Linked DNA regions of Homo sapiens. The protein of the gene in region 1 purifies or fractionates together with the protein of each later gene. This does not show direct contact. Each region holds a gene or a part of one and is shown on either strand. Other genes may lie near its edges.

Region 1 (3,500 bases):
TAAGAGGCCCTGTACAAGAGCCAGCTCCTGCCTCCTCATCTGTCCCTTTCTCGGACCATGAATCAGCTTCCTAAAAAACTGGCCTGCTCTCTGGAGCTTCTCTGTGCTTGGTGGCATTTGGTAATTGCTCTAGCGAATGCTTCTTATCCTAGTTTTGTTGCTTTTGTTTTTTTCCTGCAGCTGTGTCTCTCCCTATGTCCCAGCCAAGAAGCAATATTCCCTGTTTCCTGGCCTGGGGCCTCCTTGATGCTCTGCAGGTGACACTGTTTCCTCTGCCTCCTCACAGTCCCCCCACCTCTGCAGGTCCAACTCCAGCCCCCCGCAAATGCCCCATGCAGACGCCACCACCCACACTCATTCATGAGTCGTTCAGGAAGGGCCCCTGCAGGCCGGGCCTGTGCTGGACACTGGGAGAGTCCCTAGGTCTCTCCTTCGGTGACTGCTGACGGGACACCAGCACAGAGGCGATGGGATGGCGGCCCGCCTTCCCCACACGGGGAGAACCGCTGTGAGATTCAGAGTCAGTGGATACTTCTTAGACCCCTGCTGGGCTCCTGGCCCTGTGCTAGTCATTTCCCTGTTTCCTAATTTAATCCTCACCACAATCCCATTCTACAGATCAGAAAACTGGGTCTCAAGAAGTTATGCAACTTGCCTGACAGCAGCTAAGCTAGTAATGCTCCCTCAGTGGCAGCTGCTTTTTTTTTTTCTTTTTTTTTTGAGACAGGGTCTTGCTCTGTTGCCCAGGCTGGAGTGCAATGGTACAATCTCGGCTCTCCTCCAACCTCCTGGGTTCAAGTGATTCTCATGCCTCAGCCTCCCGAGTAACGGATTACAGGTGTGCACCACCACGCCAGGCTAATTTTTGTGTTTTTAGTAGAGACAGGGTTTCCACACACTGGCCAGGCTGGTCTCAAACTCCCTTGCCTCAAGTGATCTGCCCACTTCAGCCTCCCGAAGTGCTGGGATTACAGGCGTGAGCCACCATGCCCAGCCCAGTGGCAGCTGCTTTCTAGTAAGAATTTGCTGGAACCTCTAGAAGAGAAGTCAGCCATCCAACCCGCCCAAGGTGAAGGCCGTGGAGAGCCGGTGATGGATCAGCCACAGGGCATGAACCGGAGGGCAGCAGCGGGAGAGGACTGAGGAGGAAGAGAAGCAGCGTAGATTTGGGAAGCTTCTACACTGCAGCATCCCTCAGCGGGTCTCCCGGGTGCCCACAATCGCCCTGTGGGATGACAGTTACCTTCCCCACTTCACAGAAGGGAAGACGCCTTCAGAGAGATGACTCATCGGCCAGGTCCCATGGTGGGGCTGACCCCGTCCGGTTGGTTCCAGCACTCTCAGAGCCCTTGTGTCCCAGGGTTGGGAAGTGGGGACAGCTGCTAGAAGGAGTGGGCGGGGGGGTGGCGGGGAGACCTGGGGAGGAGGGATTGCGGCTCGGGGTGAGTAGTGCCTGGGGGGAGGCCCATGGGAGCGGAGTAAAGGAGGGGAGGGTAGCGGAGGGCACGGCTGGCCGAGAGAAAAGTGGCTAAAGGAGTGGGCAGAGGAGTGAGTCAGCACATCCAGGCCCCAGGAGAGCCTCAGAGGAAACAGCTCAGGGCCTCGGGCCAGGGCCAAAGGCACAAATGGTGAACTCACAGCAGGAGGGAGGGGAGGGAGGGATGCCGAGCTGCAGAATGGACCAGCCCTGACTAAGGAGCTGCAGAAGTGAGAGGTGGCCACGTTCTGAAGTGGGGCTGGCAGCATTTTGCTGGGAGGGACAGAGGGGGCGAGGAAGTCTCCAAGGTCAAGACTGTGGGCCCTGAGCCCCTCCCAGATGGAGCTTCCAGAACTGGCCTGCATTGCATCTGCAGGGCCCCCAGGGCAGCAGCTTTGCCCTCAGGAAGCCCCGCTCTGCTGCTGCGTGAAACAGGTGAGGGCCAGGCTGTGGGACCCCCACTACTTCCACTTCCTGCCTCCCCCAGGAGTGTTCAGCCAGCTCAGACTCCGACGATAACTCCCATACCACAATATTGGCCCTTTTAAAGTGCACAATTCGGTGGTCTTTAGTATCATCGTGGAGCTGTGCAGCCATCACTGCTACCCTCCTCCTCCATCCAGCCCCGGACACCCACCCCTCTGCTTTCTGTCTCTGTGGATTTGCCTGCTCTGGACATCTCACATAAGTGGAATCATCCAACATGTCGTGTCTGTGTCTGGCTTCTTTTCACTCAGCATCGTGTTTTCAGGGTGCATCCATGTTGTAGCACGATTTAGCCCTTCATTCCTTTTCATGGCTGACTACTATTCCATTGTATGAATAGGCCGCATTTTATGTATTCACTCATCAGTTTATGGATGTTTAAGTTGTCTCTACTTTGGGGCTATTATGAATAATACTACCATGGACTTTTGTGTACAAGTTTTTTTGGGTTTTGTTTTGTTTTGTTTTTTTCTGAGACAGATTCTAGCTCTGTCGCCCAGGCTGCAGTGCAGTGGCACAAGCTTGGCTCCCTGCAACCTCCACCTCCTGAGTTCAAGTGATTCTCCTGCCTCAGCCTCCCGAGTAGCTAGGATCACAGGCACCTGCCACCATGCCTGGCTAATTTTTGTATTTTTAGTAGAGATGGGGTTTTACCATGTTGGCCAGGCTGGTTTTAAACTCCTGACCCCAGGTGATCCACCCGCCTCGGCTTCCCAAAGTGCCAGGATTACAGGCGTGAGCCACCACACCCGGCCTGTGTACAAGTTTTTGTGTGGACATGTGTTTTCATTTGTCTGAGCTATACACCTAGGAGTGGAACAGCTGGGTTGCATGGTAATTCTGTTTAACCTTTTGAGGACCTGCCAAACTGTTTCCACTGCCGCTGCCCCATTTTACATCCCCACCAGTAGTGATGGGTTCCAGTTTCTCCACAATCTCACCGACACTTGGCTATTGTCTGTCTTTATGATTTTAGCCATCCTAGTGGATGTCAATTTGTGTCTTATTGTGCTTTTGATTATCCTTTTTTTTTTTAACTTTTCATCATGGAGAACTTCAGACATTTACAAGGTAAATAGAATAATATAAGGAACTTCTGGGAAACCATGACTCCATGACTTAGCTACACACAATGGTCAATATTCTGCCGCTTTTGTGTATGTTTGTCTTTGAGACGGAGTCTCGCTCTATCGCCCAGGCTGCAGTGCAGTGGTGCAATCTCGGCTCACTGCAACCTCCGCCTACCAGGTCCAAGCCATTCTCCTGCCTCAGCCCGCCAAGTAGCTGGGATTACAGGCATGTGTCACCATGCCTGGCTAATTTTTGTATTTTTAGTAGCGACAAGGTTTCACCATATTGGTCAGGCTGGTCTCGAACTCCTGACCTCAGGTGATCCACCCACCTTGCCCTCCCAAAGTGCTGGGATTACAGGCGTGAGCCATTGTGCCCAGCCAATATTCTGCCATTCTTGTTTCCTCTCTTTCCATCCCCTCTCCACCTCAGATCACTTATAATCATTTGTTACTATTTTTCTTCT
Region 2 (3,500 bases), on another chromosome or scaffold:
CCACCCAATACAAATATTTGTCTAAAGCAATACCTGGAGAGGTAATATGATTTACAACTTAATGAGAAAAATAAAATAATTTGCTGAGCGTGAGTGAAGCTACTTTAGAGAATGAGAACAGTAAAGATTTTACTGTGTTGATAAAGACTGGATTGCACTCAGTGAATTACAGAGCAGCAAGGTTCTGATATTTACTTTCAGTTCCTCTTCACTGAGGAACTTTTGAACTTCTACATGCATTGTGGCTAAAAGAATTGTGGCCTGTCTTCTATGGATGATTTTAAGCTCAACCATCAAACATCCATTAAACACCAAGTATATGTCAGGTCCTATGCTGGGTGTTGAGGACAGAAGATGAGTGAGGAGCTCATAATGTTGTACAGGAGAAAGACATATAAGTAAATAATAATGAAAGGGATTGCCACTTTTTAAGTGCAGACTACGTGCTAATGGTTTCACATATATTATTTCACCAAATCTTTAAAACAATCCTAGAGTCATGTTTATTTTTATCCTCATTTTACAAGCGAGGAAACAAAATCATGGACGATGGACCATATGCCATGGTAGAACTAAAGTTCAGACGCGAGCACAGAGAAGACCCAGGTTTTTGGGAGGCCCTCTTTAAAAAAGAATGCACTTTGTACTCATCAGACGGCTACTATGAAACAAAAAGAAAACCAACCAGACAAAAATACAGCAGAAAACAAGTGTTGGCGATGATGTGGAGAAATGAGAACCCTTGTGCATTTCTGGTGGGAATGTAAAGAGCTGTCACCATTGTGGAAAGCAGTATGGTGATTCCTCAAAGAATTAAACACAGAACTACCTTATGGTCCAGCATTCCACTTCTGAGTATATATCTGAAAGAAGTGAGAACAGGGGATTCTACAGATATTTGTACACCTGTATTCATAGCAGTGTTATTCACAATATTCCAAAGGTGGAAACAAACCCAGTGTTTATTGTCAGATGAATGAATAAACAAAATGTGGTACTATATATACAGTAGTTTCCCCCTTAACCAAAGCTTTGCTTTCCTCTGTTTCAGTTATGTATGATCCACCACAGTCCAAAATTATTAAATGGAAACTTCTAGAAATAAACAATACGTTTTCAATTGCATGCCATTCTGAGTAGTGTGATGACATCTCACAGCATCCCACTCCATCCTGATGGGGCCGTGAATCTTCCCTTTGTCCATCATATCGCCTCTGTACATGCTGCCCTCCCCTTAGTCACTTAGTAGTCTTCTCAGTTATCAGATTTTCTGTTGCCATGTTGCAGTGCTTGTGTTCAAGTAACCCTTATTTTACTTCATAATGGCCCCAAAGCCCAAGACTTGTGATGCTGGTAATTTGGATATGCCAAAGAGAAGCCATCAGTCCTTCCTTTAAGTGAAAATTTGAAAGCTCTTGGCTTAATAAGGAGAGGAAAAAAGTCATATACTGAGGTTGCTAAGATCTACGGTAAGAACAAATCTTCTATCCAGGTAATTGTGAAGGAGGAAAAAGAAATTCGTGCTAGTGTTGGTGTTGCAACTCAAACTGTAAAAGTTACAGCTACAGTGCAAGATGGGTGTTTCGTTAAGACGGAAAAGACATTAAATGGGTGGGTGGAAGACATGAATAGAAAACATGTTTTGATAACCACCAGTTGCACCAGAAAGCACTGAGCATCTGCGAAGACTTCAGCAAGCAAGAAATGAGTTGACACCACGCCGCAAAGGGCTGGTTACACTGATTCAGAAATACAGAAGGTCAGTAGCAGCCTATGGCTACATCACAATGCTTACATCATTCACCTCTTGTCATCTCATCACAGAGGCATCACAGCATCTCCCATGACAAGAAAGGTGAGTACAGTACAATGCAATATTTTGAGAGAGAGAGAGAGACTACATTCACATAACTTTTATTATGATATATTGTTATAGTTGTTCTATTTTATTATTAGTTATTGTTGTTAATCTCTTCCTATTCCTAATTTATAATTTAAACTTTATCATAGATGTGTTTGTATAAGGAAAAAAACATAGTGTTTATAGGGTTCGGTACTAGCCATGGTTTCAGGTATTGTCTTGTAACGTATCCTCACAGATAAGGGGGACTACTGTATATACAAGGGAATATTATTCAGCCTTAAAAAGAAATGATACATGCTACAATATGGAGGAAGATTGAAGACACTATGCTAAGTGAAATAAGCCATATACAAAGGGACAAATACTGTGTGATTCCACTTATATGGGATAACTAGAATAGTCAAATTTATAGAGCTAGAAAATAGAGTAATTGCTGCCAGAGCTCGGGGGAGGAAGGAGTGGGGAGTTATTGTTTAATGAATATGGAGTTTCAGTTTGGAAAGATGAAAAAGTTCTGGAGATGATGCGCGATGGGGGTTGCACAGCAACGTCAATGTACTTAATGCCACAGACCTGTATACCTTAAAATGTTTAAAGTAGTAAATTTAATTTTACCACAAAAAGAATACAAAATTAATAATAAAATTAGTGACAAAAGTGAATATCTATTTAGAACAAGAAAATGATTTATAATAAATCAAATATTTTACAAAGTTAAATATCAAAAATATCACAAAATCTAAAAAACAATATTTCATATTCAGCCACTGCCAGACACAATCCTCTAAGAGCTTTTATCTATATTTTAATTTCATAATTCTGGATTATCTCTTCATATAGCAAAAATTTTATATTATTTTCTGTAGAGAGAATAGAAAGATATTTCAGTCTTATTTCAAGCATGGTTGATTAAAATTTTTGTTTGTTCTTATTAATACTGGGATTCATAAAACTTCACACACATTTGAAGTACTGCTATAGGTTTGTGTCTTAATACACAGGATTCTTTAATTTTGTACTATTTTCATCAAAAAAATTTTGTAACATATGATGTGGTTTTAATCGTACGTAAGACATTATCAGATACATTCCTGAGAGAACCTGTCTTAACTAGGTTTTCTGGTCAAATTCTAAAACCAAATTCTCTGCCTGCAGCTTTACACACTGGATGATTGAAATTATTTTCCCTCGATTAGCTCTGTCTCTGTGCATTTCACCATCTGTTTCTCTTCAATAACCTACAAATTTCTGAACCTGGGAGCCATTAGGAAGCACACTTTCACTTTTCAATATGACTTCTGGCCCTGCATATTTGTTTTGGCATAGTGGATGCTACCCTGAATGGCTAGCAATAAATTATCAATATACAGAAATGACTGATACCCACATAAATATGACCCACTAAAGCCAAACTAAAATTATTCTCAACTCAACTTTCCCCATTTGGGTCTCAAAAATGCCCACAGCCCCTCCAATACCACCTGATACAGGAAATATGATGCCGTACAGTCAGAGTAAAATGATAATGGGGTTGACTGATTGTGGTTAAATATCTTTTGCAAATTTTATATAAAACATATGATTGTGTGAACACATTTCTTGTGCCCTTCTGGGATCTTGGAAGTAAATCAAGCAA

The links. The genes of interacting proteins can lie anywhere in the genome.
Region 2: the proteins of KCNG4 (region 1) and CA1 purify together in Homo sapiens (affinity purification with mass spectrometry; one large-scale study listed by BioGRID and IntAct). This does not show direct contact.

Annotation. Positions count from the first base shown.
Region 1 is NC_000016.10:84,226,513-84,230,012, reverse strand, and holds part of KCNG4 (voltage-gated potassium channel regulatory subunit KCNG4), read left to right. Parts: intron 1-3,500. UniProt on the Homo sapiens protein: Regulatory subunit of the voltage-gated potassium (Kv) channel which, when coassembled with KCNB1, modulates the kinetics parameters of the heterotetrameric channel namely the time course of activation, deactivation and inactivation and on the voltage-dependence of activation.
Region 2 is NC_000008.11:85,371,614-85,375,113, forward strand, and holds part of CA1 (carbonic anhydrase 1), read right to left. Parts: intron 1,126-3,500; exon of another isoform or gene 528-1,125; intron 1-527. UniProt on the Homo sapiens protein: Catalyzes the reversible hydration of carbon dioxide. Can hydrate cyanamide to urea.